Linked DNA regions of Homo sapiens. The protein of the gene in region 2 interacts with the protein of the main gene of each other region in a biochemical or structural test. Each region holds a gene or a part of one and is shown on either strand. Other genes may lie near its edges.

The links.
Region 1: the proteins of DDX46 (region 2) and APBB1 form a complex in vitro, tested with the Homo sapiens proteins (one study listed by BioGRID).

The regions. Positions count from the first base shown.
Region 1 is NC_000011.10:6,412,351-6,416,165, forward strand, and holds part of APBB1 (amyloid beta precursor protein binding family B member 1), read right to left. Parts: intron 1-3,815. UniProt on the Homo sapiens protein: Transcription coregulator that can have both coactivator and corepressor functions. Adapter protein that forms a transcriptionally active complex with the gamma-secretase-derived amyloid precursor protein (APP) intracellular domain.
Region 2 is NC_000005.10:134,786,207-134,790,021, forward strand, and holds part of DDX46 (probable ATP-dependent RNA helicase DDX46), read left to right. Parts: intron 1-2,306; coding exon 2,307-2,385; intron 2,386-3,009; coding exon of another isoform or gene 3,010-3,062; exon of another isoform or gene 3,063-3,408; intron 3,409-3,815. UniProt on the Homo sapiens protein: Component of the 17S U2 SnRNP complex of the spliceosome, a large ribonucleoprotein complex that removes introns from transcribed pre-mRNAs.

The DNA.
Region 1 (3,815 bases), on a different chromosome or scaffold from region 2:
CCATGTTGGTCAGGCTGATCTCAAACTCCTGACCTCGTGATCCGCCCACTTCGGCCTCCCAAAGTGCTGGGATTACAGGCATGAGCCACTGCGTCCGGCCCAGCCTTTCAGATCTTTGACCAAATGTCACAGCCTCAGTGAAGCCTTCCCTGAACACCCATTTTAAAACCACAGGCTACCTCCGCCCCTCCTCAGCAATCCCTAAACTCTTCCCCAGCGCCTGTCACCATCTGACAAGCCAATTTATTATTTACTTTGTCTAATGATTGTCTCCTCATGACTATAATTTATAATTTCCATGTTGGTGAGGATTTTGCCTTTTTGGTTAAATACAGTATGCCTAGTGCCTAGCGTAGTCCTGGCACAGAGCAGGAACTCCATTAATATTTGCTGAATGAATGTATGAATCAGTCCCCATTTCCTCCAGGCTTCGCTTTGGCATCTCCTCTGCCAGTGTCAGAAAACACTTTGGTTACGTTACTATGCCTTATGGTGCCCCAAACAAACTCCACCTGCCTCTCAGGTAAGAGGACGTCCTGTTCCGCAAGGACAGCTCCCCCTCCAGACCCCTCCCTCTGCCTCCTCACAGCCCTTCGTGGGTCAGTTTCTCCGCAACCATTTGAGTCCCAACTATCCTTCCAGCCCGCCACCCAGGGACCCACCCTCGGCCCCATTCCATCCTCCCCACTCTCCCTGACCTTCCAGTTGCTCTGCTGCTCTCCTTCCCGGACCCCCAAGAGAAAGTGCTCTCTCCCTGGACCCTCACCAGCCCCCGATTTCAGTTATTTCTCCCTGACCAACCACTGCCCACTTCTCTCTCATCCTGAGCCCTCCATGCAAGCCCTCCTTCAGACAGCCCCTACCACATTACTCTCTCCTCCCTCGATGGCCTCACTGATTCTCTTGCCCTACCCGACCCTTCCCCCAACAGACAATTCTCCCTCACTGACCATCCCAACAAACACTGCACTGTGCTCTTTCTCATTCCCACTGTACAGACCTTTCTCCTTGATGTCTTATCTGAGAGTTCCCTATCTCCCTGTTCCTCTACTAAGGAGTTCTTTCTTTCCCTGACTCACCACTACCCCCCTTCCCTCTGTGTTCTCAGCGCTGAGCACAGGTCTTGCAGCTACCTGAGCAGGGCTTGCCCATCTCTCCAGGTGCGGTGCGCCCAGGCTGGAGTGCAATGGCACGATCTCAGCTCACTGCAACCTCCTGCAGCCTCCTGAGTAGCTGGGATTATAGGTGCCCACCACCACGCCCAGCTAATTTTTGTAATTCTTTTTTTTTTTTTCTTTTAAGTAGAGATAGGGTTTCACCATGTTGGCCAGGCTGGTCTCAAACTCCTGACCTCAGGTGATCCACCCGCCTCAGCCTCCCAAAGTGCTGGGATTACAGGCGTGAGCCACCGCGCCCGGCCCCATAGCTCACCTTTCTACGTCTCTAGTTCCTCAGACACTAGTGCTATGCTACCCACACATCTGTAAGATGAAAAAGGTTTCTGCGCACGTGTCTGCCTCACGTGGGGCTGTTGATCTGCTCAGTGTGACTCCTCCTGGCCAATGAGAAAACTCACAGCCACTGGAATAAATGAAGAAAAAAATAGCTCTACCTCCTCCCAGAACCACAGTAATCTTCCAAAAATGGAAACCAGATTGTGTCACTCCCTGGTTCAGAAAATGAGAGGGCTCACCACTGCCTTTCGGATAACGCCTGCACTCGTTCGCAGACACCCAAGAGCCCTCTTAAGCCGGCCTCTATAACCTGTCAGTCCCCTCCCCACCTCCCGCCTCCTTTATACCTTATACTCTAGCCACATGAAGCGTGGCGGATTCTGAAACATGTCGCACACTCTTAAAGCCCTGGGTCTTTGTTTATACTGCTCCCTCGGCCTGGAATTCTGTCTCCCCTTGTGAGAACCTCTGCTTGTATTTCAAAACTAACCTCAGCAGTTACAGCTCCTAAGCAGTCTTTCCTGTTCTCTCCCCACCATCAAGTGACTGTTCTCTCCTTCGTGTCTCACAACACCCAGAACCACATTCTATCAGAATATCTGAGACGGTGTCTTATTCAATTTCACATTCCCATTACCAAAGAGAGTGTGCCGTGTGCCGACACAGACTGGGCTGTTGCAGAAGGAAAGGACGGATGAACGGGACAGACACAGGGGGTGGGAGGATCCAGGAAGCTCAGAACTGGCTGGGAATAAATACCAAGAAAGGCTGTGTGGCCCAATGGGCTGGGGAGGAGCAAAGGGAGTGTTTGGGAGGGTGTCAGAGAATGCCAAAGGGTCCCTGAGTGGGAAGTAAGATGGGACAGGAATCCTGGAGAGGTGAGGGCTGAGATCTAGGAAAAGGGAGCGAGGGAGGTAGCTTAAACCAACATCTTGGCACAGACACTGTTCAAGAGTGGCATCTCCATGGGTGTCAGGAAGCAGAAGACTCCACGACTCTGCCATGCTCAGAGGACCTTAAGGATGGCAAACCCTTCTCTGAAGCAGTAGTGTACAGAGCCAGGTTTCTCAAAGGTCAGGCAGAGACCAACCTCCTAGGCACTAGGAGATATGATCTGAGAAGAGTGCATGCACTGTGAGGCTGAAACAGTGAAGAGCCAAGTTGACCTCAGGGCAGCCCCGCCAATCTGGTCACCAGGGCAGGAAGTATTAGAGGAAGAATGGTGAAACTGTTTAAGTGCTGAAGCCTGAGCATCTAGCCTGAGGTGGTGTGGTCACCAACACCCCACTGCTCGAGGTCAAAAAGATGATCTCAGTCCAATTTTTTAAAGAAGGAACACAACCTAATCTCTCCCCTCTCATTGGAGTTACCAAAGGATGCAAAGAGCCAACTGGGTTCTGGCTCAAGGCAGGGAGTTGGGCAGGGGCCTCGGGGCAGGAAGTGAAAGAAGTAGTCACTAAGCCTGAAGATCCTGGCATCAGACCACAGGGGTTGGGGTTGAGTCTTGCTCAAAGTCAGGAGTTGTCTAATCTGACAGCTTCCCATATGCCAGGCACTGTGCTAGACACAGGGGAGAGTGATGAAGACAAAAGAAATGGTTCTTCCTCTGGAGGAGTTCTCAGTTCAGCGGGAAACAGTCATTGAACAACTTGTTACAATGCAGTGTAACACCAACATCTAGAACAGTGCCTGGCACCCATAGCATTCCCTATTTGTTGACTGAATATCATGAAGGAGGAAGAGGAGGGCATTACAGGAACCTGGGGCTTACTACAGCCAAGACATCAGCAAAGGCCTGCCTGAGACTAGGACATAACTCTCCATTGGCCACCCGTCTCAGAGGCTGATCTCCCCTCCTGATTCACAGAGGAAAGGGAAGCCATCCAACTGGGTAACATCCTCAAACATAAAAACCTAACCAAACTTCAGCACCTATCCCTTTCTCTCCTTCCCAAAACCAACTGCTTCACCTATGATTTGGATTCTTCCTATGATGCCTTTCCAGGAATTTTATACCACTGTTTATCTATTTTCTCCTCTATATGATCAACCTCTCCTTCTCAATAGGATCCACGGTCTCCCAACTTGACCTGACGCTCCTCCAGATCCACTCACTGCTCTCTTTCCTCCCCCATACAGGCAAACTTCCTGAGAGAGTTGTCTCCACTCACTGTTGCCACTTCCTCACCTCCCACTCACTCCTCAACCCTTTCCAAACCTGCTTCCACTCCCAACACGACTCAGTAACAGCTCCTACCAAGGTCAACATGACCCCTGTGTCATTCAATCCAACAGACACAGTGCTCGTCTTGGTTGTCCTCCCAGCAGCATCTGACCCCGTGAATCTCTCATCCAGCCTCT
Region 2 (3,815 bases):
AGCTTGATTGTGTTCATCATTTCAGAGTGTATATGTATATCAAACATGTTGTACACCTTAAATATATATAATTTTTGTTAATTATGACCCAATATAGTTGTGGCAAAAAAGAACATACTATGTTAATGCTAGATTAGAATTTTTGAATCTTTTTACATAGATTATCCCTCCTCCCTCTTCCCCTGCCTGAGAAAGCAGATTTTTTTTTTCATTTTACATATGAGGAAATATTCAGAAAGATTTATTAAGTTGACCAATTAGGTTAATACGTTCTAGAGTTTGTCCTGGAACCTAGGTCTCTGATCTCTGAGCATTTGTTTCTCTAATCTATGCTGACATCTTTAAAAAGTGATGGTGGCCAGGCACGGTGGCTCATGCCTGTAATCCCAGCGCTTTGAGAGGCCGAAGCGGGTGGATCATGAGGTCAGGAGCTCAAGACCAGCCTAGCCAACATGGCGAGACTCCCCGTCTCTACTGAAAACACAGAAATTAGCCTGGCTTGGTGGCGCCTGCCTGTAATATCAGCTACTCGGTAGGCTGAGGCAGGAGAATCACTTGAACCTGGGAGGCGGAGGTTGCAGTAAGCTGAGATCACGCCACTGCACTCCAGCCTGGGAGACAGAGCAAGACTCCATCTTGGGGGGTGGCGGAAGTGATGGTGATTACTGGGATGCATTAATATCAGAGGTGTTTTGTTGTTGTTGTTGTTGTTGTTTTTTGGTTTTGTTTTATTGGAGACAGCATCTTACTCTGTTGCCCGGGCTGGAGTGCAGTGGTGTGACCTTGGCTCACTGCATCCTTGACCTCCTGGGCTTAAGCCGTCCTCCCTCTTGAGCCTCCTGAGTATCTGGGACCACAGACGCATGCTACCACACCCGGCTAGTTTTTGTATTTTTTTGTAGAGACGAGGTTTTGCCATGTTGCCCAGGCTGGTCTTGAATTCCTGGGCTCAAGCAATCTGCTTGCCTTGGCTTCCCTTTGTAACACCTCCGAAAGGTATAGACGTGAGCCACTGTGACCAGCCCTTCAGCTGTCTTCTAAAGAATGAAATAGTTTTCAGATATTTTGCTTAACTAGAAGAAGGCAAAAAAGTAGGTTCTGTGATTGGATAAGTTTTGGAAATGTTGGAGTATAAAAAGTTAAAACCACTTTCTTTCCTGTAAGACTTCTTTGTTCTTAATAAGCTAATGTATATTGTGTTGCTAGATAAATGGGATAAATTAAGTGACGTTTTCTGAACTTAACTACAAAACTGTTTCTTAGGACTATTGTTACAAGAACACACTTCAAGAATATTTGCTTTTGTTAACTCCAGTGCTATTTTAATTACTTCAAATTACTTCATTTTCTAAGTTTATCTTTATGATTTTTCATGACTGTAGTTTGTAGAAATACACTTACAAAATAACATGGTACATGCCTGCACGTTGTATTTATATAAATGCCAAACAAAAGTTTTATGATGTTAAGGGACTTCTGGTATTTTCCATTCCATTTCATTTAAAAAATGCTGGTTGTGGTTGAACACTATGGCTCATACCTGTAATCATCACAGCATTTTGGGAGGCTGAAATGGAAGAATCACTTGAGTCCAGGAGTTTGTGACCAGCCTGGGCAATGTAGTGAGACCCCATCTCTTAAAACAGTAAATAAATTAGCGAGTGCCTGTAGTCCTAGATACTGGGAGGGTGTGTGGGGTGGTGGGGGGAGGGGCTGAGATGGGAGGGTCACTTGAGCCCAGGATCTAGGCTGCAATGACCTATGATGACACTGCTGCACTGGGCAACAGAGCCTGGGCAACAGAGTGAGACCCTGTCTCAAAAAAAAAAAAAAAAAAAGCTGATTATGACTGTTAAAGTGATTTCATGATTCACTAATGTGGCAACCCTCAATTTGAAAAACACTAGTCTATGTGGTCACTTAGAAATTTCTTTTTCTGAGGCAGGGTCTTGCTCTTGCTCAGGCTGGAGTGCAAGGATGTGATCATAGCTCACTCCAACCTTGAACTCCTGGGCTCAAGAGATTATCACTTTTTTTTTTTAAACTGCTTTCTTAAGTTCATTTCTTGGTTTTGAGGGATAGTGGCAAATCAAATTTGCAGAATTCTCTAGTTCTTATTTGTTTCAAATTTATGGCACTATGTGGTCACGTTGTTGCTATTTCTTTAGTAGTGCCCCGAGATTCAAAATAATTAAGCAGGAAGCTTGGAAGTCTTCTAATTAGACTAGGCAAGAACTAAATGCAGTATTTTTTAGTGTTTAAGTAAGCATTAGTAATAGACTATAAAGTTTCATCTTTTTTATTAGATTGCTGAGCTGAAAAGAGGTGCTGAAATTATTGTTTGCACACCTGGTCGAATGATTGACATGTTAGCCGCTAACAGTGGTAAGTCAGGGGTATTTTTTTGGTGTCTTTTATTTTTGAATTCTTTACTTTTTTTTGTTAAAACAGATGCAAGAAACCAACAAAGGGTTTCTATATTTCTTCTTAAAGCTGCAGTATCTTAAAATTTGTAGCCTGTAGTCCCAGCTACTTGGGAGGCTGAGGCAGGAGAATAGCTTGAACCCGGGAGGCGGAGCTTGCAGTGAGCCAAGATCGCACCACTGTACTCCAGCCTGGGTGACAGAGTAAGACTCCGTCTCAAAAAAAAAAAATAATAATTGTAACAAGTTGATTATTACAAGCATTAATGATATTTTTGCAATTTAAAATTTTTTTTCAGAAGTAACTCCATCTGATCATAACTTGGATTCTTAATCCAGTTTTGGCCTGGCTTTGCTTAGTAAAAGAGTGGGGTAGTAGCTTTTTCTTTATTACAAAATTTAGACTTTTTCTCCACATGAGCTAGTATTTTCTTAGATACTACATAAATTAAGATATTGCAGCTTCAAGAAATTTTATCTTTTGTAAATATTGCATGTTTGTAGCTCAAATGTTATGCTTTGTTAAATTATTCCCTATCAAAACTCTTACTAAACTGTTGACATTATTTAACTTCTGTGGAGAAAGGCCCTTCAAGATTTATAGAACTGGGCTTCCGAGACTTAAACCATCAAAGGTAGGTAATTTAATGCTGTTCCCGACCTTGCAAAACTAATTGGGGCTACAAATGCTAGTGTGGAATACTTAAATATTAGATAGCACTTATTTTGGCACTTTTTATTTTTTGAAGAAAATGCTCTCAGAGGTTTCCATTGCAATATTTAGTGTGTACATAATAGAGTATTAAAAACTGAGTTAGTGCATGTTTCTAGTAGTATTCTGCTTGAATTTCTAATTCTAATTGTACATGAAGTTGGCAAAGTGACATCGAAATTGAGAAGTCATTGTGCTTGTCTAGCATATGGAAAGTTTTGGTTTGAATGCTGATTAAATAATCCCTTTTTTTTTTTCTCAATGCTGCATTGATTAAGTCTCCTCCTGAAATTCATCTTGATTAATTTTACCTTTTTCTCTTATCTGTCATTGTGGTCTATTTTTAAATAACTATTTTATACGTGTTTTTGCCAGGTGATTGATTCAACAGTTGATAGCAATGCTTCTGTTAATATTTTAGAAGGAATTTCCTATGTATGTATTTTGTTTTCACTGGTTAGGAAGCCAGTTGCATTTATTTAAGTCAGTGGGTTCACTTAATAAAATTGGGATTTATATCTTTGTATGGAAAATGTATTTATGTAATGTGTTTTGGTATTTAAAGTTTTTGTGTGATACTTTAATTTCCTAATGCTGTCAAATAGCTTCTCATTAAGGGTTTGACATGCCCATTTAAGAAGCTTCTAAATATATGGAAGTAGGTTATAAAATAATATAGA